Linked DNA regions of Homo sapiens. The protein of the gene in region 7 purifies or fractionates together with the protein of the main gene of each other region. This does not show direct contact. Each region holds a gene or a part of one and is shown on either strand. Other genes may lie near its edges.

Evidence for each region.
Region 1: the proteins of AMZ1 (region 7) and M1AP purify together in Homo sapiens (affinity purification with mass spectrometry; one large-scale study listed by BioGRID and IntAct). This does not show direct contact.
Region 2: the proteins of AMZ1 (region 7) and FAM91A1 purify together in Homo sapiens (affinity purification with mass spectrometry; one large-scale study listed by BioGRID and IntAct). This does not show direct contact.
Region 3: the proteins of AMZ1 (region 7) and NCAPG2 purify together in Homo sapiens (affinity purification with mass spectrometry; one large-scale study listed by BioGRID and IntAct). This does not show direct contact.
Region 4: the proteins of AMZ1 (region 7) and TANGO6 purify together in Homo sapiens (affinity purification with mass spectrometry; one large-scale study listed by BioGRID and IntAct). This does not show direct contact.
Region 5: the proteins of AMZ1 (region 7) and RGPD8 purify together in Homo sapiens (affinity purification with mass spectrometry; one large-scale study listed by BioGRID and IntAct). This does not show direct contact.
Region 6: the proteins of AMZ1 (region 7) and WASF3 purify together in Homo sapiens (affinity purification with mass spectrometry; one large-scale study listed by BioGRID and IntAct). This does not show direct contact.

The regions. Positions count from the first base shown.
Region 1 is NC_000002.12:74,638,331-74,641,830, forward strand, and holds part of M1AP (meiosis 1 arrest protein), read right to left. Parts: intron 1,998-3,500; coding exon of another isoform or gene 1,946-1,997; coding exon 1,706-1,945; intron 1-1,705. UniProt on the Homo sapiens protein: Required for meiosis I progression during spermatogenesis.
Region 2 is NC_000008.11:123,809,939-123,813,438, reverse strand, and holds part of FAM91A1 (protein FAM91A1), read right to left. Parts: intron 3,158-3,500; coding exon 3,088-3,157; coding exon of another isoform or gene 3,049-3,087; exon of another isoform or gene 2,778-3,048; intron 921-2,777; coding exon 735-920; 3' UTR 1-734. UniProt on the Homo sapiens protein: As component of the WDR11 complex acts together with TBC1D23 to facilitate the golgin-mediated capture of vesicles generated using AP-1.
Region 3 is NC_000007.14:158,698,305-158,701,804, forward strand, and holds part of NCAPG2 (condensin-2 complex subunit G2), read right to left. Parts: intron 1-3,500. UniProt on the Homo sapiens protein: Regulatory subunit of the condensin-2 complex, a complex which establishes mitotic chromosome architecture and is involved in physical rigidity of the chromatid axis.
Region 4 is NC_000016.10:68,842,092-68,846,330, reverse strand, and holds the start of TANGO6 (transport and Golgi organization protein 6 homolog), read right to left. Parts: upstream 2,801-4,239; 5' UTR 2,714-2,800; coding exon 2,620-2,713; intron 1-2,619.
Region 5 is NC_000002.12:112,399,146-112,402,645, reverse strand, and holds part of RGPD8 (RANBP2-like and GRIP domain-containing protein 8), read left to right. Parts: intron 1-797; coding exon 798-979; intron 980-1,062; coding exon 1,063-1,238; intron 1,239-1,405; coding exon 1,406-1,529; intron 1,530-2,451; coding exon 2,452-2,610; intron 2,611-2,876; coding exon 2,877-3,014; intron 3,015-3,276; coding exon 3,277-3,423; intron 3,424-3,500.
Region 6 is NC_000013.11:26,564,183-26,567,682, reverse strand, and holds part of WASF3 (actin-binding protein WASF3), read right to left. Parts: intron 1-3,500. UniProt on the Homo sapiens protein: Downstream effector molecules involved in the transmission of signals from tyrosine kinase receptors and small GTPases to the actin cytoskeleton. Plays a role in the regulation of cell morphology and cytoskeletal organization.
Region 7 is NC_000007.14:2,705,202-2,708,701, reverse strand, and holds part of AMZ1 (archaemetzincin-1), read right to left. Parts: intron 115-3,500; coding exon 1-114. UniProt on the Homo sapiens protein: Probable zinc metalloprotease.

The DNA.
Region 1 (3,500 bases), on a different chromosome or scaffold from region 7:
ACTTCCTATCACCCAGGGGGCTTTGTTCTTTGCTGCGTGATGTCCAGTGTTTTGAAAAGTGTTTTTCATAGGTTTTATCCAGTTTTTTTTTATTGTTTGAGGCAAGAGGGTAAATCAGCTTGCTGTTATTCTATCTAGGGTGGAACAGTGACTTGCTTCCAATGAACAGAATGTGGAGGAAGTGACAACATGTTACTTTTGAGACTAAGACATAAAAGGTATTTTGGCTTCTTCATTGCTCTCTCTCTCTTTTGGATCAGTCGTTCTGGGAGAAGCCCGCTGCCACAAATTAAGGACATTCAAGCAGCCCTTTGGAGAGATCCAAGTGGTCAGGAAACAAGAATTTCTGCCAACAGCTAAGTGAATACGCCATCTTGCAACTGGATCCTCCAGCCTCAATCAAGCTTTCAGATGACTGACATCTTGGCTACAATCTCATGAGGGACCCCAAGCCTGATCTACCTAAGCCACTTATGAATTCCTAACTCATAGTAACTATGAGATGATGTTTATTAATTTAGACCACTACATTTTGGGATAATTTGTTACACAGCAATAAACAATGAATAGAGGTACCAAATTCTGCTCAAACTGTAGAAAGGATCAGTTGAATTTCTTAAATAATTTTATCCTTTTCCCATCCCCAACCCAGCCTAAGTAACAATGCACAGACAAAATCCCCATACTTAGCACTGGAGCATTTATACTCAAAACTTTCCCTGTGTGACTTTTGTCAAGAAATAAACCATGAGTTGTTATAAGCCTAAGGTTCTGTCAAAGCAACCAGGGTATGTTCTAACTCAAGAAGCATGAAGTAATATATATTATTTTCATTCTTTATAGTATCAACAGAGATGTTATCTTTCCACTTCCAATGAGGGAAACTAAGGCATTAATAAAAAAATAGATTTCAGTCATATATTACATTCATAATTCAGCAATGGATTTATGAAATTTCCTCTTTTGGAAATCTTAAATAAGACTTATATCCATTTGATAACGTATATTAGCAGCAAGGCTACCTCAAGGAAGGAGATGCATAGAACCTCTGGAAGTCTTTCTCTTCACTATGATTCTGAATTTTATACAAGGGAGAAAGGGAAGATTGAAATTTTGAGGAGGAGCATAGATAATTGTTTATGTATGAAGGAGCTTTGTAAAGACACTGCCCCTGGCCCAGCCATTGCCTTCCATAACCCTAGGGGGCAGTTTCACCTGAGTCTATGTGGAATGTAGAAAAAATATTTTCATGTTTTTGCATAGTTAGGGCTTTCTGAGCAAAGAAAACTGGTACCTGGGTTAAAGGGCAAGTCTTGGAAGTTAAAAGATGATTGAATAGTCAGAGACCTCAGAAGAGATTTAGAGGCTTCCCTCCTTGTGTGTTTACATTTCAAAGGGCATAAAAGGAGTCAGTTGTTTACATTTCAAACATCTGTCAATGCCAAGGTTTCTCTCCCTCTCTCTGGAGTGGAGCTTGTAGCCTATTTATACTCCCAGATTAATAATTTTGGATTTTCTCTTCAACAGTACACACCCCTATATATGCAGGATGCCCTCTGGCTCTCATGGTGTTACTCGGGGGCTACTGTGTGTGGAGAAGTAGTGCGGTTATTGTTATAAGTATTAATAACTGTGATCTCTATTCCAGAAACCTTACCACTGTATTTGCTTTCAGGGTAAAATGAATAAATATAGATATACTTACCACAAAAGGGAGGATGCACTCATGCTGATCTTGTACCATGTATAAACTGAACAGGGACATGCGGCTGGGGCCCATCAAGCTGCAGGCTAGAGAGAAGAAGTTCTGCAGAGCCTCACAGAGGTTGGTGCAGATGTCAGCCCAGGACGGTAGAGCAATGTGCACAATGAGAAGCCGTGGAGGTTGCTGGTCAATCTGAGTGTGAGTAGAGGGCCCTTTACCAGTAGTTCGCCCAGGATGCATGGCAGCAAAACCAGAGGGGGAACTGTAGCCACCAGCTGGATATTCTTTACACCTATAGGGAAGGAAAGAGAAACCACTGGTTTTCAAACTGAATTATGTGTGCTCTGTTGAAATATAAAATACAAGTCGAGGGAAACAAATCCAGAAAGGAGTCAGATTGGGTACTAAAGCTTGTCCAGGCCATCCTATTTTTTTTTTTTTTTTGAGACAGAGTCTCGGTATGTCACCAGGCTGGAGCGCAGTGGTGCGATCTTGGCTCACTGCAACCTCTGTCTCCCAGGTTCAAGCGATTCTCCTGCTTCAGCTTCCCGAGTAGCTAGGACTACAGGTGCACACCACCACGCCCAGCTAATTTTTGTATTTTTAGAGATGGGGTTTCACCATGTTGGCCAGGATGGTCTTGATCTCTTGACCTCACGATCCGCCCGCCTTGGCCTCCCAAAGTGCTGGAATTACAGGCGTGAGCCACCGTACCTGGCCCAGGCCATCCTATTTTAACAGCTCCCAAGAGATCTAGATGTTTGCCTATCATGTAAGCCTGAGAATGCTTAGAGATGCTGAGTGGAACTAATCAAAAGTTACACCAAAAAACTCAAGCTTCTGTCTCAAAGTAAGCTATCTGCCCTCATAAACTTTGTTTCTTTATTGGCATTTATTGCACTCTATTACAATTTGTTTCTATGACTGCCTCTCCCACTATATTGTAAGCTTCCCAAGGGTAGAGAACCTGTCTTGTTGATATTATTCATCAATGCCTAGCATATGTGTGTTTAGTACCTAACGAATAATTCTTAAAAATGAAAATATGACTACATTTCTCCTTGGTTAAAATTCTTTGGTTGTCTGAATCTCTTATAAGGTAAAATTTAAACTGTCTTTAAGACCTGTCATTACTTAATTGTTAGCCTCATTAGAAATTGTTCTTCGCCTCAAGATTTTCACGGAAACAATACCAAATATATTCACTTTAGTGCATTTGCTCATGCTGCTTCTCTGCCTCCAATACTCCTGCCTTCTTTCTCTACTGGCTACTTATACTTATCCCCAGGACTCAGATTAGGAAGTGAGAACAATTGAGAACAAAGAACCAATATAAGGAATGAGAAAGGGACATCATCACAAATGCTCAAACGTGAAAAGGGTTATAGGAGGACATAATGAATAGCTTTATGCTAATAAGTTTGATAAAGTGGACAAATTCCTAGAAAAATGTATCTAACCAATACTAAAGAAATTTTAGAAACCTAAATAGTCTATAATCATTAAGGAAATGTAATTGGTAATCAAATATCTTCCCACAAGTAAGAGGGTCAGATGATTTCACTGATGAGCTCCATCAAACATGCAAAGACCAAGAATTTCAATCTTTTTTTTTTTTTTTGTAGAGATGGGGTCTTGCCATGTTGCCCAAGATGGTCTCAAACTCCTGGGCTCAAGTGATCCACCTGCCTCGGCCTCCTGAAGTGCTGGGATTACAGGTGTGAGCCACCGCGCCCAGCCAAGAATTTCAATCTTAAACAAATTATTTTAAGAACAGAAGAACATATATAACAGG
Region 2 (3,500 bases), on a different chromosome or scaffold from region 7:
ATAAAGACTCTATGAAAATATAAAGCCCAAAGTCAGTGACAACAGAAGTCCACATATAAATGGTGTTTAAAAATAGAAAGTCTTCTAAAGCTTCTCATGAGATGTCAATGAATAGTCATAATCTTAAGACCTTATAAATCAAGGTTAAGTTATACACAACTATGCTGATTTACATACCTTCTACAATGTCCAACTGACATACATAATTTACAGACACCCATAGGAATTCATAATGCCCTATCATATCATCTCTCAATACTGGATGTTTATTGTTTTATAGTTTTACTACTTTAAGTACCAAGAAGCCTTTTCAGAGGAAGAGTTCCATCTCTTCCCTTGATCCCCCAAAGTATAGGTAACAAAATATAAAATTAAACAAGATTTATGTTTGATAAACTAACATATAAAATTACCATTGCAATTTTCATAGTGACTGCTTATAAACATAACAGTCATCATAAAGCCTATAAAGTATATACTTAGTTTTATAAAAGAAATGCAGATTGTCTCAAGGTAAAAAATACAGTGCTGGCTGCTAAAAAGCACTTTGTCGCAATAAGATGTGCAATAATGAGCAAAACTTCAGAAAACATGAATATGTTCCCCAACTTTTAATATTAGTTAAGCAAGAATTGCACTGCAGCAGCAGGATGCTTTTTAGTGGCTGACACTATAAAGCTAACGTTAAGAAAGAAAAAAGGCAGAAAGTGTGAGCAACAAATGGTGTAACCAAATTATTGCAAATGGAGATTAGCAATAAGAAGTGAGGAAGGTGACCGTCCACTCCATTCTGATAAGACACCATCTTTAAATATTAAGTTTTTTGCAGGAAGTGGAACACCCATGTCAGCACACGATGACTGTGAAAGCAAACTTGAAAAACTGGGCTCTGTGTGAATATCCAATATTGAAGCACCTTCCTAAAAGATCAAGAAACAAGAGAAATGATATTCAACACTTTACCAAAACCACTTAATATAACTAATGAGAAAGAGAGACCTTGATTACCTGAGAAGTGTTTATGGATTGCAAAGCAGTACAGGAGATGCAAAGATCTACACTGTGAGCCCAAAGCAATCAATGACAGGTATTAATATGTGCAAAAATGACTAACAACGTTAAACTGTAGTAAGTCCTTTTAAATAGAAATAAGAGGCTACGAGACTGTGGGAAAAGCAAAAGTTCATTTTTACAAGACCTAACCTAACCCCAAAGTATTACCTAACAGAAGAAAAATCTCTAAAAAAAAAAAAAAACTTACAAAGGCCAGGTGCAGTGGCTTGTGCGCCTGTAATCCCAGCACTCTGGGAGGCTGAGGCGGGTGAATCACTTGAGATCAGGAGTTCAAAACGAGCCTGGCCAACATGGTGAAACCTCTTCCTACTAAAAATACAAAAAAATTAGCTGGGTGTGGTGGCACATGCCTGTGATACCAGTTACTCAAGAGGCTGAGGCAGGAGAATGGCTTGAACCCAGGAGGCAAAGGTTGCAGTGAGCCGAGATCGTGCCACTGCACTCCAGCCTGGGCAACACAGCCAGACTCCATCTCGGGGAAAAAACAAAACAAACAAACAAAAAAAACCTTACAAAACACTAAGCACCAGAATAATCCACCTACTCCACGCTTCTCAGATTCATATATTCCGCACAGACCTCCCCCCAGGACTCCATGCTCAAACATCCACCTATCTGACACTTCATTTCAGATGCTTCCCCATGCACTCTATACTCAGTATGCCCATCATTGAACTCTCAAATTTTCCCTCCCCTCTTCCTCCCCAGTCTTCTCTATTTCACACATCCAGCTAATCAAAAAACATAAGAATCATTCATGATCCCTCCCCTCCCTTCCCTCCACAGCCCTAATCTTTTCCTCACATTTAATTCATCATCAAGTTTTATCAACCTATCTCCAAAATATATCCCAAATTAGTTTAATTTATTAATTCACTATGGCCAAGGCCTTCACTGCCACAACAGACAGGCCAGTATTGACAGAATTTTGAAATTTTTCCATTTATTGCATCCTTATAAAATTTCCATTTTTGCCTATTTTTATAAAATAGTCCTTCAGAAATAACCTCTCTCCCCTGTTTAAAAGTCTTTAATCATTTCTCTTTGCACTCAACGTAAAATACTAGTTCTCTAACATATGCCAGAAGGCCCTGCACACCGTGCTCCGGCCCTCTTCTTCAACCTTACCTCTTGCTTCTACCCCTCTTTCATGAAGTTTCTGCCACACTGGGCTTCATTTGTTTCTTTGTTCACTGGACATTTCCCAGACACAGGAAGTACAGACCTAAGCTCTGCCGGAATATTCTTTTCCAACTTTTTGGCTTCAGCTTATATTATCCTGCACCTATTGAAATTAGGTCTACCTGCAGATTTCATCATAGTTGGCTTCTTCAAAGTACTTTTTAAAATCTTTTAGAACTTATATATCTTAATATTTATCTGATTATTGTCTCCCACAACATTCTCTAAGTTCCATTAGTATCTTACACATCACTGTTTCCACAGCACTCAGCAAAGAATCTGGCATAGGTCAGGGTCAAGCATTTACCAACTGAATGAATGAAGTAAAACTCCAAAATATTGATTTCATAACGTTGAATTAGATATTCTGAACAGAAATATTCTATTTTAAAAGTTTACCTATAAATCAAGTCTAGAATATTCTTTCTTTCCTTGGGGATGGGGGAAAAACAAGAAGTCCAGAGCACTGGCCTTCGCTGCCACAACAGACAGCCCATCCCAGCAGTGGAGAATCGCTTTAGTTATTGGGAAGTGCGCTATAACCAAAAACTAACACCTAGCATGGCACACAGCCCATAAAAGACACTTAACACATTTCTGTTGAATAAAGCACTGGCACAGAACAAAGAGATCAAGCTTTGGTCTCCGAAGACCTGGCGAGTGAAATGTGCAAGTCCATTAACTTCTTGAATCTCAATGTCTTCATTTGTACAATAAAATTAATGTTTATTTCATATCTTGCTGCTGTGGTGACTCAAAAACAAACACAGAAGTGTTGTGCATACTTAAAGCTCAGTACAAGTACCATTTGGACTTTTTGGTTTTTGTTACCTGGAATGAGTGAACAAAGTTAAGGACTTGCAGAGAGAGTTTTCTACTGGAATGTAAGAGGTTTTGAAGGCTGAAAAAAAAAAAGGCGAGAAACAGTTTAAAACAAACATAAAGGCAAGAATGAGTTTCTCATAAGAGTTTAATTTTAGCAATTTAAATGCATCTATATATCCTGGCCAATCACAAAACATCTTAAAAAACAATTTCAGTGTTTCTCATCAATGAAATTTTTGCTTGTTTTAATAATAGGGAGTAGTCATGCATTAAAAGTCCATTTTGAAATAAAATACATCGTGTAACTAAAATCAAAGTTATTGTTTTAAAAAAATTCAACTACTATAAACATAAATGTTAAATGAAAGAAAACTTTTCAAATGAAGATTTAGGCACTCTGAGGAATGACAACTATGACA
Region 3 (3,500 bases), about 160 Mb from region 7:
CAGTAGTGTACAATGACGTATTAGGCCTTCACATTTACTCACTACTCAGTTATTCACCCAGAACAACTTCCAGTTGTGCCAGCTCCAGCTACACTAAGTGCCCTATTCAGATGTACCATTTTTTATGTTTTATACTGTATTTTTACTGTACCTTTTCAATGTTTAGACACACACCATTGTGTTACAACACTGTGCCTACAGTATTCAGTACAGTAACATGCCACACAGGTTTGTAGCCTAGGACGGTAGACTGTACCATCTAGCCCAGGTGTGTACTGAGCTGCTCCATCTGGGTGTATGTAAGCACACTTTAGGATGTTCACACAACAATGAAATGACCTAATGATGCATTTCTCAGAACCTATCCTCATCAAGAGTCATGTGACTGTACCAACTCTGTTCAAATATCATCTCTGAGGTTTTCTTTAGCCACTCCATCGTTCCCAACTTCCACTTCCACTTGCTTTATCAGTAGTAGTAGTATTTTTTTTTTTTTTTTGAGACAGGGTCTCACTTTGTCACCCAGGCTGGAGTGCAGTTGCACAATCATAGCTCACTGTAGCCTCAAACTCCTGGGCTCAAGTAATTCTACTGCCTCAGCCTCCCAAGTAGTTGGGACCACAGGCACAAGCCACTACACTAGGCCAATTTTTTAACATTACTGTAGAGACGGGGTCTTACTATGTTGCCCAGGCCAGTGTTATCCTGGCCTCAAACGATCCTCCTGCCTCAGCCTCCCAAAGCTCTGGAATTACAGAGGTGAGTCACTGTGCCCAGCCTCCACCTGCTTTATTATTTCTCTATGTGTCTTGTTTTTCTTCCTCTACCACTAGAACATAAACCCCCATTTGTGCAGAAACTTTTCTTTGTGTGTACTATAACCCCAACTCTCAGTGCAGTGTCTGGCACACAGAAGGCACTTAGGACATGTTTGTTAAATGATGGAATTCTCCTCAGTGCTGTGTCCTCCTCCCCATCATTGATTCTCCAAGAAGGACAAGGGCATACAGTATAATCAGCTCCACTCTGGAACACTTGCTTGAAAATAAAAATTTGTTCCAACATTGTCAATACATCAAGGAACAATTTGACCAAAGGCAAATTCCCATTTGCTTATGTGGGATTTCATAGGCAAGAAATACCAGGTGAATGCAGAAAACTGCACCCACTGACTGGAGCCACCAGGATCCCATGAAACACAACTCAGACACCTACCAGCTCAGTCCATTCATACCTGGGCCACACATTGTGCCCCTCACCTGCTATGACCCAAAGGCTCCAACCCCACTGCACTGCACCCTCCCCAGGCCCACCGTGCTCTCCAATGCTCTGTATTCCCCTCTGCCTTGCTTGCCTTTTTCTCCTCTGTTCTACCTCATTTTCTTCCTCTTACACACAGAGGGGCAGGTGTACCTTGGGAGCACAGGCACCTACTCCCAACTATAGAATGTAAATATTTTTCAAGGTAAAGTGCCATGCTTACTATAGTATTTATGCATTTCTTACTGATTTAACATATAAAATTATGCTACTGTTTTATTAGGTTCCTGTTTTTAACATGTCACTGGCAAAATTTTTTAGTGTTGTCCCTCTAACTCCATTTTCCCCATAATCTCTCTGGGTTATTTATTTATTTATTTATTTATTTATTTTAACCAATTCTGCAGAGTGCAGTGACTGTTGGTAATGCATGTGTGGGATTACAGCAGAACTAACTGTACTTGGAAAGATCTACCTGATAGGCCCCAAACTGATTTAAATTCTTATCAAATTGAACTATGGGAAACCATCATTATTATATAAAATGGCATTTCTGTCATTCAACTTGATGAAACCACGTGATGCACAATCCTACACATTTTCATTTTTACACGTAAGAGCCACACGGTGACTAGGTACTAAGCTGAACTGTTAAGTGTTAATAAAGCTTATTGATAAACTAGAGTTAATGCCTCATTAGTATAAGGACTAATTCAGTATTCTCCTGAGATGTCTGCTGGCTTTCCAGCAACACTGCAAAGGCTGGTTGGCACACAACGGGTGGCTGGAAACAACGCACCCCAGAAGGGCACCTGTCATTGTGGCCACCAGTGTGATTTTGAGTTGCTATTTTTACCTCTGATTTTCAATTTAGTTTTCTGTGATTTTGTTAACATTATGGTATGCACTTTGCAACAACAATCTTTTAGACTTTAAAATATGTATGTACTGCATTTCCAATACAATCCATATACACTGCTACTGCTAAAGCAGACATTTATATATTATCTAACTAATTTGCTCTTATAAACACTTCTATGGTGATGAGATGCCTATGAGTTTGCGATTATTTTTAAGTTTACAGGATATCATTTTATAATACCAAAACATGTTATAAGCTCATTTCTCTTATAAAGAAAAATGATTTCTTAAATGTTGCCAGTAACAAATTCATTATTAGATTCCTCTAATTCTTTGTCACTAATTTGATTTTCACCACATAATAAGAACAAGTGAGACAAGTGTGCCAAGGGTCTCCTGCCCCAAAGATACTTTCGTATTTCAGAGTCAGTGCCTCCAATGCTGGCTTCCTCAGAGATGTGTCCTAGGCCCTTTTATCTGAAACTCTACAGAGATAACTGCAGGCATTCCCATGACTTAGGCTTCCATGCCCAACCTGTCTCTAGCTCAGCCCTTTCCCCTGGTATCCAGACGTGCATGTCTGACTACTGGCCATCCGCTGGTGCACATCCCACCACCAGTCATCTGGTACCTCCAAAATGGAGCCACATTCTCCCTTGAATCTGCCCTCTTCCCACGTTCATGAGCTTGCTGAATGGTACTACACAGTCAGACGCCTGGGCCCTTCCCCACCATATCCATATCCAATCAGTCCAATAGTGCCATCACTTCACTACCAAGCAGCTTCCCATTTCCAGTTCCTAATTCAACCATCATTTTGAAGAGCACAACCTAAGAGGTTAGCCTTAAATATGTCCCTTTGACATATTTCTCACTTGTAGTCAGAGGAATATTTCCAAAAGGCAAACCATATTTTTCTCCTTACCTCTATTTTGTCCACTAGTTCTCTCTCCTTCTCTTTTGTTCTCTTCCTCCCTTGCCTACAGCTCGCTCCCTGCTTCAAGCACCCACCGTTCTCAAGATAAAGTCTGAATTCCTTAAAATGGTAAAGACTCGTGTAGCCTAGCCCCCAGCCTCATCTTCTGCCTTCCTGCTGAACTTCAAGTTCAAACACAACAAACCTTCTCTAGTCTTCAGAGTGACCTTCTTTGTTAGATGGGTCCTTTCCCCCAACATCCCTCTTTGACTGGTTAACTTCTGTTTATCTTTTACATCTTAGCGTAGCCCACCAGCAGGTAGATTTGAGTATAAAGGGTTTTGTTTTCTTCTTTCAAATAAACATTGGTCGCTAAGGATTCACTGAGATAACTATGTTTCTTTTGGGGACATAATGACTTTAGAACATATTTCATATTCACAGTCAAAAATCACAACAAAAC
Region 4 (4,239 bases), on a different chromosome or scaffold from region 7:
GTTGGGCATGGTGGCTCGCGCCTGTAATCCTAATCCTAGTACTCTGGGAGGTCAAGGCAGGCAGATCACCTGAGGTCAGGAGTTCGAGACTCGCCTGGCCAACATGGTGAAACGCCGTCTCTATTAAAAGTACAAAAAATTAGCCGGGCATGTGGCGCATGCCTGTAATCCCAGCTACTCGGGAGGCTGAGGTAGAAGAATCACTTGAACCTGGGAGGTGGAGGTTGCAGTGAGCTGAGATTGCGCCACTGCACTCCAGCCTGGGCAACAAGAGCGAAATTCCATCTCAAAAAATAATAAAAGTACAAAAATTAGCCAGGCATGGTGGTGGGTGCCTATAGTCCCAGCTACAAGGGAGGCTGAGGCATGAGAATTGCTCGAACCCGGGAGGTGGGGGTTCCGGTGTGTCAAGATCATGCCACTGCACTCCAGCCTGGGTGATGGAGTGAAACTCTGTCTCAAAAAAAAAACAAAAAACAAAAAACAAAATAGGGTCTTACTCTGTCACCCAAGGCCGGAGCACACTAGTGTAATCATGGTTCACCACAGCCTAGACTTGGACCTCTCAGGCTCAAGCAATCCTCCCATCTCAGCCTCCCCAGTAGCTGGGACCACAGGTGTGTAGTACCATGCCTGGCCAATTTTTTAGTTTTTTGTAGACACAGAGTATCACTATGTTGCCCAGTCTGGTCTCAAACTCCTGGGATCCTGCCTCAGCCTCCCAAAGTGCTGGGATTACAGGTATGGCCCACCTCGCCCAGCCACTACAGATATTTTTAAATTCCCTAAGCAGCTAATATGATAAAATAGTAGACAGATTCATATAATATATAAGACTACATGTACAAAATAATATAATTTCACGAACTAATTCCTCTTCAAATAGGAATGCTTGAATTTCTGTAAATTAAATGAGTACATATATGTGTACTCCACCACATACTCATAGAGATTAGAGAGTCTTCTATAAATGAAGCATAATATACATGTTTCATAACAGATGATTACTTTCAGGATTTTTGCTTATTTAAACGTGTTCTCAGTCATACAATAGAGAGTTGCAGGCCAGGTGTAGTGGCTCAGGCCTGTAATCCCAGCACTTTGGGAGGCCAAGGCAGGCAGATCACTTGAGGTCAGGAGTTCGAGACCAGCCTGGCCAACATGGCAAAACTCCGTCTCTACTAAAAAGACAAAAATTAGCTGGGCATGGTGGTGTGCACCTGTAATCCCAGCTACTCGGGAGGCTGAAGCAGGAGAATCGCTTGAACCTGGGAGGCAGAGGTTGCAGTGAGCCGAGATTGTGCCACTGCACTCCAGCCTGGGCAACAGAGTGAGACCTCATCTCAAAAAAAAAAAAAAAAAAGAGTTGCCGTTAGAAGACAAGTGACCTCTCGATTAGCAACTTAAAATTCTATTTTGCAGTCTGACTCTTAATTGAGACAATGTAGCATATTTACCATACTTTTAGTGGAAATAACCTAAATTCAAATTCTGCCACTTACTAGTCTGACATTGGGCAATTTCCAATGTACCTGAACCTTGGTCCTTCATCCGTAAAAATTGAATACAAGTAGTACCGATCCCAGGGGATCGTAATGAGGATTAAATGATGTGTATGTCAACAGCCTACTATGGGGACTGATACTTAGTAGGCACTCATTTACTAATATTAGTAACTTGTGTTCACTTCCCGCTGGTGTGGTGTAATGTTTGCAGAAGTTTTTGCAGTTTTAAGTATAAAATCTGAGACTGGGAGGTGATCCCCTTTGGCCTTTCATGTGCCCTTGCTAATTCTACAGATCCCTTCCCATCCCTTCCCCCAAATATACACCCCAGTGATAAGCAGAGCTCTATCTTCCACGTCCTTTCCAAAAGCTCCAGATAACATCAGAGCCCCTATACTGAACAATTTGTCTGATTCTGAGAAGGGGGTTCAGTAGATCTCGGGCCTAGGTCCGTGTTCTGCCCCTAATTTGACCACGTGATCTTGGACAGGTTACTTAATTTCTTCAGTGAGCCTTGGGTGTCCTCAGTCGCAAAAGGAGTAGCAGCTTCAACCACTCCCAATATCCCTTCAGATTTTAGACTGGGAAGAAACTGTCCACGCACCACAAAGATTAAAAGCGCCTGGTAACCCCTAAATACTCTCCCCAAACCCATTTCAAACGTCACTGCTTCCGATGTCTGGACTTCTTGGCATTTCGTACAAATCTCAAGGGTCCATGCTGGCCCCTGCGCCCTCACGCGGCTAGGACCTCACATTTCTACGTCGCGGGCGCCCTACCCTCTCTGGAGCTGGGTCCATATCCCCCTCCCAAGAGCGCTGCAGTAAGCACTGAATGAAATAACGGCCCCGCCTGACAGAGCCCAGCACAAGGCAAATGCTCAAGAGATGTTGGCTAATATCAGCAGTCAACGGATCCCGCGCCCTCCTTGAGCCTCAGTTTCCTCAAGAACGTAATGAGGACGGGCATAGACAATGCTCAAAGCCCCCAGCAGCGGGCGGAGGGTCCCGAGGCGGGCCTAAGGGGCGCACGCTGCGGAAGGCAGGGCAGCCCCGGAAGCCGGGCGGCCCTGAGAGTCCCGGGTCCAGCCCGGCGCGGAGATGCGTCCTCTCACCTCCCGGGCTCAGCAGCAGCTTCAATGCCTCCAAAATCCGATCCAGACCGCATGTCTCCTGAGCCCCGCTGCCCACGGCCTGTCGGGCCGCCATGACTGGAGTGTAACACCACGCTCGCGACCCGCTCAGGCGCCTCGGCAGGGCGCCGCCGCCGCCATGTTAAGTGTGGCAGAAGGCTCTGGGCACACTATGGGGCGGGGCCAAATCGATCGGGAACGCCCCCTTCACATTTTTTTTCCGTCCCGGCTTAGTCCGGGGGGTAAGAGGGAACCCAAAAATGGCTAATCTGCCCACGCGCACAATTTCAGAAGCTCAATATGATTAACCGCTATGTAAAGAAGGAAGAGAGAAGTAATGTATCATTAAAGCTATATTTCAATATGAAAATACTCAGGTACTCAACACTGGCAGACATAATGAAGCAGACAGATGCTTCCATCTGCTTACAGTGAAGTATGGATAAGAAAAACAATATTCAGGCTGGGCGCGGTGGCTCACACCTGTAATCGCAGCACTCTGGGAGGCCGAGGCGGGCAGATCACAAGGTCAGGAGTTTGAGACCAACCTGTCCGATATGGTGAAACCCCGTCTCTACTAAACATACAAAAATTAGCCAGGCGTGGTGGCGGGCGCCTGTAGTCCCAGCTACCCGGGAGGCTGAGGCAGGAGAATCGCTCGAAGCTGGGAGGTCGAGGTTGCAGTGAGCCGAGATCACACCACTGCACTCCAGCCTGGGCGACAGAGCGAGACTCCATCTCAAAACAAACAAACAAACAAAACCTAAGTACAGACGTACACACGCATATATATCCATCGTGAATGTAAAGCTACAAATGTTGTTATGGGTAATATGATTTTTTTTTTCAGTGAACTTAGTAAAGTTCCCAGTAAAAGTTCGATCTGTGTTCTGTTTTCATGGTTGATGCATTCCTCGAAAATTCAGGGTCTATCAAAACCATGCCCTCCGCCAAACTGTTTTTATATGTAAAACAGAATGGATTTGAGATTCAGATTATCGGAAACAGGTTTTCACCTACATAAATCCTGGTGGGACGTTGAAAAACCATGTTGTCTGAAAGTCATGCCGCAGACACAGGACAATGTTTTTGAGGGCAGGACCTTTATTTTTATTTTATTTTTTGAGATGGGGTCTCGCTCTGTCGCCTAGGCTGGAGTTCAGTGGCGTGATCTCGGCTCACTGCAACCTCTGCCTCCCAGGCTGAAACAATTATCTGGCCTCAGCCCCCCGAGTAGCTGGGATTACTGGAGTGCCCCAGCATGCCCGGCTAATTTTTGTATTTTTTGTGGAGACAAGGTTTCGCCCTCTTGGCTAGGCTGGTCTTGAGCTCCTCACCTCAAGTGACCTGCCCACCTGGGCCTCCCAAAGTGCTGGGATTACAGGCGTGAGCCACTGCGCCCGGCCCAAAGGACAAACTTCTTAATGGTCCGGTCCTTGGGCGAGAATAAGCTGCGCATAGCTATTACCCTTTTTGGCATGACTCTTGTTTCTTCTTTTCTTTGTCATTTTGGAATGCAGGGCCTGAGAGGGAAAAACGCTAAAAATTTTTTTTTAGAGATGGAGTCTCTATGTTGCCCAGACTTGTCTCAAACTCCTGGCC
Region 5 (3,500 bases), on a different chromosome or scaffold from region 7:
AGATACCTAAAAACAGAATTACTGAGACAAAGGACATGAACATCTTTAAGTCTTGCAAATTGCCAAAATGACAGAAAGATTATACCTCTTCATGCTTCCAGAAGCGCATAACCTTTTCTTTTCTTTTCTTTTCTTTTCTTTTCTTTTCTTGTTTTTGAGACAGAGTCTCGCTCTGTCACCCAGGCTGGAGCGCAGTGGCGCAATCTCGGCTGCCAGGTTCAAGCAATTGTCTTGCCTCGGCCTCCCAAGTAGCTGGGACTATAGGCATGTGACACCGTGCTCGGCTAATTTTTTGTATTTTTAGTAGAGACGGAGTTTCACCATGCTGGCCAGGCTGGTCTCGAACTCCTGACTGCGCATAACATTTTCAATATTGACTTTCTTGTAGAAAAACAGATTTCTTTACTGTACCGATGGATTAATATAGTGGTGTTCCATTGCTTTAATGACTTAAAGCAAAACCCATTGTTTTGGGGTTTCTTATTAGGTTAGGTGTTCTTTATTTGGCTTTTGTCAGTTGATTTTGGTTTATTGAGTTCTAGTCAGTGTCATTTTTTAAGATGGACTTAAACATTCTTCATCACTACTATTTTTATTAAAATTTCTAGAAATAATCAAGTGAGAATGCATTTAATAAGAACATGAGATTTTGCCTAACATAGAATTCCCTCCAGCTTTGATATAGAAAAGCAGTTATATAATTAAGATATATATAATGTGAATTGTTTATGTTGGCAAAACTAATGGCACAAAGAAAAATTTCAAACCCTTAAGCCAATTTTTAAATTTTATTTCAGGTGCTATTCGAGCACATAATGGTAGTCTTCAGCATCTTACTTGGCTTGGCTTACAGTGGAATTCATTGCCTGCTTTACCTGGAATCCGAAAATGGCTAAAACAGCTTTTCCATCGTTTGCCCCATGAAACCTCAAGGCTTGAAACAAATGCGCCTGAATCAATATGTATTTTAGATCTTGAAGTAAGCAAAGATTTTAACAAATTAAATATTCTGAATTTTGTTTAATTTTTTTTTCTAACTTAACTTTTCCTTAAATGAAACAGGTATTTCTCCTTGGAGTAGTATATACCAGCCACTTACAATTAAAGGAGAAATGTAATTCTCACCATAGCTCCTATCAGCCGTTATGCCTGCCCTTTCCTGTGTGTAAACAGCTTTGTACAGAAAGACAAAAATCTTGGTGGGATGCGGTTTGTACTCTGATTCACAGAAAAGCAGTGTAAGTAGTAAAACAAAAATATTGCTTTCACTTAGTGCGTAGGTTTTACCGGGGATTTAATCCTCGTGTGAAGATTTAATTTGTCATGTGACCCATTAACATATATGTATGTAAGCGCTGAACTGTGTATTTAGAAAGCAATTTTAGTAAATTGAACTATTTTTTAGACCTGGAAACTTGGCAAAATTGAGACTTCTAGTTCAGCATGAAATAAACACTCTAAGAGCCCAGGAAAAACATGGCCTTCAACCTGCTCTGCTTGTACATTGGGCAAAATACCTTCAGAAAACGGTGAGTTTTAAAGTATAAGCATTTTTAATGAACATTACCTTAATTTTTTAAAATCATGAACTTTTTATTGAAAGTTTTTTTGTTCTGAAAACAGCAGCTTGGTCATATTATGACAGATGTGTTTTTTATTGCTGCAAAATAGTTAATGTAGTTAAATATAAGCACTTAGAGGAGCAATGCCTGGCACACAGTGAATGTTACATATTAGCTGAGCTGTTACTGTTATTCCTTAATAATTAAGTTCTGATAATTATTCAGCCTGAAAATTAAAAAAAAAATTAGCACAAGGCTTTGTAGGTAAGACCATTATAGATCTTTCTAAATATTTAAGGTGTGTTTTGTGTCACCATTAGGTGTAGATGGTCAGCCTTTTGAACAAACTGACACTACAGAAGAGGCAGGTTTCAGCTATCTAAAAAGGACAACTGTTAAAAAGTAGTTTGGATTGCTACGTTAGAGTGGTATCATTAGAAGCATTTAAAAGTTGAGTGTAGAGGCCGGGTGCGGTGGCTCACACCTGTAATCCCAGCACGTTAGGAGGCCGAGGCGGGCAGATCACAAGGTCAGGAGGTCGAGATCATTCCTGGCTAACACGGTGAAACCCCGTCTCTGCTAAAAATACAAAAAAAAACTCTACTAAAACTACAAAATTAGCCAGACATGGTGGCAGGTGCCTGTAATCCCAGCTACTTGGGAAGCTGAGGCAGGAGAATTGCTTGAACCTGCACGGCAGAGGTTGCAGTGAGTTCACTGGTATTAAGGTGGTTTAGTTATTACAGTATTTGGAAGTTGAACAAATGACTATTGAGGTACCATTTGGTTTTGACTTGAAATTTTAGCCAGTTCTTACAACTTGTAAATGAACTTTAGATCTAATCATGCGTGTTCCTTAAAGTTGTGTGCTTTTAACTTTCTTTTTTAGGGCAGCGGTCTTAATTCTTTTTATGGTCAACTAGAATACATAGGGAGAAGTGTTCATTATTGGAAGAAAGTTTTGCCATTGTTGAAGATAATAAAGAAGAACAGTATTCCTGAACCTATTGATCCTCTGTTTAAACATTTTCATAGTGTAGACATTCAGGTAACAGAGTTCCTTTATGAATTTATTGGAGATGGGAATTTCCAGTTTATAAACAAAGACGTGGAGCTATAAACTGCTTAAATTAATTGCCTTGTTATTTAACGGTAATCTTGTTTTCTAAATTCACTAGCTCTCACAGATAAGATATGACAGAGAAGAGTAATGAGATGTTTGTCTCTTAAGATCATATAAAATCTTTGGAAAATCATTTGGGTTTTATATTCTGAGTATAAACAATTTGACTAAAAACTATTCTATGTGTTTAGGCATCAGAAATTGTTGAATATGAAGAAGACGCACACATAACTTTTGCTATATTGGATGCAGTAAATGGAAATATAGAAGATGCTGTGACTGCTTTTGAATCTATAAAAAGTGTTGTTTCTTATTGGAATCTTGCACTGGTAAGTAGATGCAGTACTTGAGCTAAAAGTTGTATTTATTTATTTATTATTTTTTTTAAAAGACGGGGTTTCTCTGTTGGCCAGGCTAGAGTGCAGTGGCACAATCTTGGCTCACTGCAACCTCTGCTTCCCAGGCTCAAGCGATTCTTGTGCCTCAGCTCCCGAGTTGCTGGGATTACAGGCATGAGCCACCATGCGTGGCCAAGCTGAAAGTTTTTTGTTTTAAAAAGCTAATGATTTCATGAAAGCACTATTTGTATAGATTTTTCACAGGAAGGCAGAAGACATTGAAAATGATGCCCTTTCTCCTGAAGAACAAGAAGAATGCAGAAATTATCTGACAAAGACCAGGGACTACCTAATAAAGATTATAGATGACGGTGATTCAAATCTTTCAGTGGTCAAGAAAGTAAGTAGCAGGTTGTTGTATGTACGTTCTTACTGATAACCCACTGGTCAGTGTTTTTGCGTTGGTCTTATATTTTG
Region 6 (3,500 bases), on a different chromosome or scaffold from region 7:
TTTCTCACCTACTACAATGTGAGCCCCATCAGAAAAGGCAGAAAATATGTTCTCCAAAACAAGGGTCAGGAATTTTTACTGTAAAGAGCCAGATAGCAAATATGTCGTACTGTGTAAGTTAGCCTCTGTTGCCACCACTTACCCCTATATCAGCTCTGCCTTGCAGCACTAAAGCAACCCCAGACAAATAAAAGAACAAACACGTCTGTATTCCAATACAATTTTCCTTGCAAAATCAGGCAAAGAGCCAGATGTGGCCCACAGGCTGTAGTTTACCAACCCCTGATCTAGAACAAGCTTGCCATGCAGGATACTGATTTTGAACTAACCAACCATCTCTCTCGGTCTCTAAAGCCACCTTTAATTGACAAAATACTGGCACTCCAAGCGCATCTGTAACAGTAACTTCAAACTATCTTCTATACATCTTTCACCAAAAAATCCACCTGAGATCACTTATATTCCTGAATGACTGTTTGAGGGATATGAAGTGTGCTTATTCTCACAACTAGAAAATATATAATAAACCATGTCAGTTTGATCCTCCACAGAATTGTTTTTGATTGTTGTACTTTCACTTTATTTAAGGACATGATAAACAGCCAAACAAGAACCACTGTTCAATGTACCACATGAATGCCACTGAGCACATCACCTACTACACCTTTCAATGTAACCAATTCAAAGCCCCAAGTGTGAAATGGGGGACATATTAAGGAAAAGAAACTGGTATCTTCTTTATGCATGGTGAAAATGACAGCATAGAGCTGAGGATGATTTCCTTTCACTGTGGCCACCAGGATGCTCACACAAGTTCCAGTCAGACTGGGGTAGAGACTAGTTATGCTACCAGTCCCCATGACCTCTCTTCTCCTGCGGCGTATAGCTCTGCTATGTGTCCAGCCTAAAGTAAGCTAAGAGAGGCCATGTCTGAGTACGGCTAGTAGGATGAGAAGCAATGTGTGCTGGTCTATAAAAACCTCCCACAGGACTGTCCTCATTCTCCACCCACTGCCTGAACCAAGCAGGTTCCCAGTTCCTATAGGAGGCTAAGTCACAAGGTGGAAAAAGGCTGACCACCTGAACAGCCATGTGGACACCTAACCCATGACGACCCCAACATAAGCTTCCACATAGGTGAGAAACAGATGCTTCTTGCTCTGAGTCACTGAAATCTTGCAGTTATTAAAGCAGTCCTCATGTCTAAGACACTGACCACGGAGACTAGAACTTTATTGATAGTACAGGTTTTGATGTATTCATTTCTGGTCTTTATATATTCTTGATTCTCATTCTTTATATTTAGCTTTATTACTGTGAGCACTTCCTATAAGCTAATCCAGACATTCATTTAATGACAGATGAGAGAAAAGTCTCCATTGCTTATGTTCAATAAATCATCATCTCAAATAATAAAAATCTGAATAAAGTACATATTCCACTTAAAACTCTATCTGTAACTTTCATTTACACACAGTTTATCTAAGTTATGTAACTGTTCAAAAAGAGAAAAAATGCTAAGTAAATATTAAAATGCAGGGCAATATTGTCTCAAATGAAATTTGACAATCATCAGAAACAAAATAGCCTAAGAAATAAAACCACAAATTTCTAAACTCCTGTGTGGCAAGAAAAAGTAACCATAATTATAGCTTAATGTAACGCAGCTGTTCTAAACTCTTCGGTGCCTAATCCCTACACAATTATTTCAAATGATGTTCTGAAGTTTTGTAGTTTTCATAATTTTTTTTTGAGGGGTGGGAACTGGACATGTCAGAAATGGAAGAAGTTTTCAATGAATGCTCTGTAACACAATGGACAAACAGCAGAGACGCTATAAAGATTTCAATTATAGCTCAGGCATCAAGTTCATTTTCATTGATAAACTTTGTAACCATTCTAAATTGCAATGCCAACTTTTGAAAAGGAGTAACCTTTTAATAATCTTCCTCCCTGGGATATCTCAAAGAACAATTCACATTCTAGAGAAGCCTTGGGAAACAAATGCTGTTTGCAGCAAGAATTAAAATCTCAAGACAGGTGTTTGGGGAATTAGGGGGTTACTGTGTATTTCTGGGTTTCTGATCAAAAGCCAGGATGATTAACTCTAAACAATATATGACAAATACTACAGAAAACCAAGAATGGAGATACGTTTTAAATCCTACAGGGCTGGTTTTTTTTAAATGTGTTTTTACATTTATATTGAAAACAGACGTGTTCTATATTGGAAAATTATAGTATTTCTGCCAAAGTTAAGATCTTACTTTTGAAGGCATGTAAAGTCAGTCTCTTCCTTCCCATTCTAAGCTGTGCAACAGCCACAACCTCTCTCAGAACAATATAAACATACTTGTAAGTTGCCCCCTCTCTCTTTACCATCTTTCTGGTTAATGGCACCCCTCAACTTGTACTAGAGTTTCTCCCGTGTACCACAGGAAGCAAGTTTTGAAATTCATGAGCCCTTCTATAAACATTAATTCTTTTTTTTTTTTTTCTTTCTGAGACCGAGTCTCACTCTTTTGCCCAGGCTGGAGTACAGTGGTGTGATCTCACCTCACTGCAGCCACCACCTCCCGGTTTCAAGCCGAGATAGCACCACGGCCTACAGTCTGGGCAACAGAGTGAGACCCTGTGTCTACCAAACATTAATTCTAACATTAGGATAGACTATGCCCCAGCAAAGAGCTGCAAAGCCAACTCAGAGCTGAAACCTGCCTAGGTAATATCCTAACACAGGACTATGTAACAAAACAGGCAAAAAAAAAAAAAAAAAAAAAAACCACAACCTTGTCATGTACATATTTTGAGAAGTTGGAAAATAAGTGATGGTAGTAGAGCAACATGGCTCAGACCATACTGTGTAAACTACCCAGTAGTGATCAAGTCCTGCTTATTATATAACCATGAATCAAAACACATAACATTTTCAGTCAATGTAAAAATACTTGTTGAGTATCTACTACGTGCCAAGAATGAACCACTTCATCCATTTAGCTGATAAAATAATGGCCACACTGATTCCAGTTCACAGTTAATCACACCTATACTTTGGTACTGCAATATAATTTCACGGAGCTTCTCAAGAGCACAAAATGGATAACAGCTCTCAATGAGAGGATGCTATGAGAGGAACTAAAATGGAACTGCCGCAGCAAGCTAATAAAATCTTCAGCATGCACTAGAGGAACTTTTAAAAATTCAATTCAGCTTTCAACTGCTAGAAAACAAGCATTCCAAGATCAAAGATCACAAAGGCTGTGAGAGGACAGCCAGTGGGAGAAGGCACCAAGTGTTACCACAGTGAAATAAGTGCAAAACCTAAATGAAGGTCTCTATATGACGACGACGTTCAAGAGGTTATCTGACAAGCTGGAACACACATATGCTATGCACAGATTATATACAAGGCACCACCCTATGTGGTTCCTGCCAACAAGGAGTTTGTGAACTAGTTAGCAAGATAATCTATCCTGTTTTACCTCACTTGAATATAAGCT
Region 7 (3,500 bases):
ACTTGCTGAAGGTGAAGCTCCAGGCCTCATGGGGGTACAGGTCAGACAGTGTGAGGCCCAGCACACACAGCGCGTCCCCTGGCTTGTTGTTCTTCAAGAAGGACAGGATGCCGTCTGCGGGGAGAGGGCCAGAGGATGGGGTCAGGAGGCAGCCGGGGACCCCCATCTTCCAGGCTCAGGCTGGCACCCCGTCATCCTCTTCCTCTGCCTGGGCCCTGCCCCTTCCCAAGTCAGGTGTGGGCCACCAGCGTTTGGTGTGACCTGAGGGCACACAGTACTGCATGATGTGGAGTGACAGCCAGGGCCATTTGGAGATCAGGACATGGTAAGTCAAAGGCCATGGACAGCCCAGTGGGGACGCTGGAGAGGCAGCCGGGCCAACAAGACTGGCGCTTGCAGCCCCAGGAAGGAGAAGCCACCTCAGCAGCTGAGCGACAGCCCCAGAGAGTCCACGTCTCAGCCCTGGGACCTGTGAGTCCCCACAGCCAAAGGGGCTGCAGATGATTAAAGATCTTGGGATGGAGGCGTTTTTCTGCAGCAGCCAGCTGAGCCTGATGCCATCACAAGAACCCTCGGTAAGGCCGGGCACAGTGGCTCACACCTGTGATGCCAGCAACTCGGGAGGCCAAGATGGGCAGATCACCTGAGGTCAGGAGTTCGAGACCAGCCTGGCCAACATGACAAAACCCCATCTCTACTAAAAATACAAAATGAGCCGGGCCTGGTGGTGCGTGCCTGTAATCCCAACTACTCAGGAGTCTGAGACGGGAGAATTGCTTGAACCCAGGAGGTAGAGGTGGCAATGAGCTGACATCACGCCACTGCCCTCTAGCCTGGGCAACAGAGCCAGACTCCATCTCAAAAAAAAAAAAAAAAAAAAAAAGCCCTCGTTAGAGGCAGCAGGGGGTCTGGGTGAGAACGTGAGGCCTGAGGGCACTGCAGGGCTGGCTCGGAGGAAGGACCATTAGCCAAGGATACGGGTGCCTCTAGAAGCTGGAAAGGGCAGGAAATGGATTCTCCCTGGAGTTTCCTGGAGCCAACCCTTGACTTTAGCCTGGGCAGTGGGGGCGCTCCTGACCCACAGCACTGTGAGATCACAGTGGGTCATCCAAGCTAGCAAGTTGTGTAACTTGTTAGCATGGTTCCCCGGAGCATGAGTGTGGACAGATACAGGAGAGGCCCAGGGGCTGAACCTGGGCACGATGGCATCAAAGCCGGGAAACCAGAAGCCCAGGGAGGGAAGGGGGCAGAGCAGCCACCACGGGCCCAGGAAACCCGGAGAGGGTCTCAGAGTTAGTGTAGAGAAGAGGGGTTGCGGCACAGAGGCACACCGGAGAAGTGTTTTCCAAGGAGTTCTACCATTAAAAGGAACAGATTGACAAGGAGGTTGTTCTGTGTGTGTGTGTTTTTTTGTTTTTTTTTTTTGAGATGGAGTGTTGCTTTGTTGCCCAGGCTGCAGTGTAGTGGCGCTATCTATCTCAGTTCACTGTAACCTCCGCCTCCCAGGTTCAAGCCATTCTCCTGCCTCAGCTTCCTGAGTAGCAGGGATTACAGGCACGTGCCATCACACCCAGCTAATTTTTGTATTTTTAGTAGAAAGGAGATTTCACCATGTTAGTCAAGCTGGTCTCAAACTCCTACCCTCGTGATCCGTCTGCCTCGGTCTCCCAAAGTGCTGGGATTACAGGCATGACCCACCACAGCTGGCCCTGTGTTTGTTTTTGAGATAACATCCCATTCTGTCACCCAGGCTGGAGTACAATCACAGCTCACGCTGCAGTCTCCACCTCCTGGGCTCAAGCAATCTTCCTGCCTCGGCCTCCTGAGCAGCTGGGTAATTGATTGACAATGATGCTAATGAGGTGATGATGATTGACAGTGATGATTGTTGTGGATCAGGCTATGTCCCCCAAAAAGACAGGTGGAAGTCCTAACCCCCGGAACCTGCCATTGTTTGGAAACAGGATCTGTGCAGATGTAATCCAGTTAAGATGAGGTCATGAAGGAGACCCAGTGACTGGAGTCTTAGAAGAGACGCAGAGGCACATGGCGTAAAGCTCACGGGAAGTCAAAGGCTGAGGTTGGAGTTGTGCATCTGGAAGCCACAGAGGGCTGGGCATTGCCAGCAACTTCCAGAAGCTGGAGGCAGCCAGGAAGCACCCTCCACGGAGCCTTCTGAGACCACGTGGCCCTGCCAAAACCTTGGTTAAGAACTGCAGGCTCCAGCGATGTGAGACAAGAAATGTCCCTAAGCCACTCAGTTTGTGGTACTTTGTTACGGCAGTCCCAGGAAACCAGTACAGTGATCCAAAGCATGCTACTCTCTGGGCAAGATGGCAGGACCCCATCTCTACAACAATCAAAATAATTAGCCAGGTGTGATGGCACGTGTCTGCGGTCCCAGCTACTTGGGAGGCTGAGGCAGAGGAGCCCAGGAGTTCAAGGCTGCAGGGAGCTATGATCGCACCACTGCGCTTGAGCCTGGGTCACAAAGCAAGACCCCATCTCTAAAAAAAAATTAAAAACCAGGCTGAGCTGACCCCACAAATGCAACCTGGCATACCCTCTGAGTTCCACCTGCTTTTGAACCTTCCCGAGTGCATGTCCTTTTCCCGAGGGCTCCCCCGTGCACCTTCTGAAGTGTGGGGCTGGGGAAAACAGCAGTTTGTCCACTAAGCAGAGGGGGTGGAAAGCCCTGGAGTGACCCTTGTGGGACTTGGTGCTGTCTCTGAGCTGCCACAGGCCTGGCACCAACAGGTCAGAGGCCATAACAGGTGAGACGCACCGTGTACGGCGTGGGGGAGGTGAGGAGAGCTGAGGCTGCAGAGGCCAAGCCTGAGAGGCACGGGGTCCCCGGCTGTGTTTTAGGGCCAGGGCCAAGGCAGGCCACATTGTCCCCAGACCCCACTGTAGGACCTCAGGGGCTGGGGAAGCCTGTGGAGTGTAGGCTGTACCCAGAAAGCAGGCCAGGACAAAGAAACATGCCACCCAGGGGATGGCACCCCACCCCAGCCAGGGGACCCCTATCAACCCCCAAATCTCAACAGTGGCTGCTCCCTGTAACAGTACCCTAGGGAATTTAGACAACCCTCCCGCCAAAAGATGGCCAGACAGGCAGAGTGAATGATAAAGAACAGCTGCTTCCAACACCCACGATGGGGAGGAGTGGATTAAGGAGAAAGGTTTGGTGGCCGGTAGAGGGGTAGAGAGCCGCCCTCTATATGATTATGGTGATGGCCACGTGATGTATGCGTGTGTCAAGACTCAGAACCTTACACTAAAAAGGATGAATTTTACTATCTAAATTATACCTCAATAACCAAGGCAGAGACCTAATGAGAAAAACGGGGAGGACTGGAGCTCAAACAGATGAAGCTGGACTGTTTCTGGGGTGGGGGAGTGGGCAGGATGACCCTGACATGCTTCCTGCCCTGGGAGGGATGCGGAGCCCTGGGGACCATCAGAATGACCCAGAAAAGCTTCATGTCTTTGTCCCACAG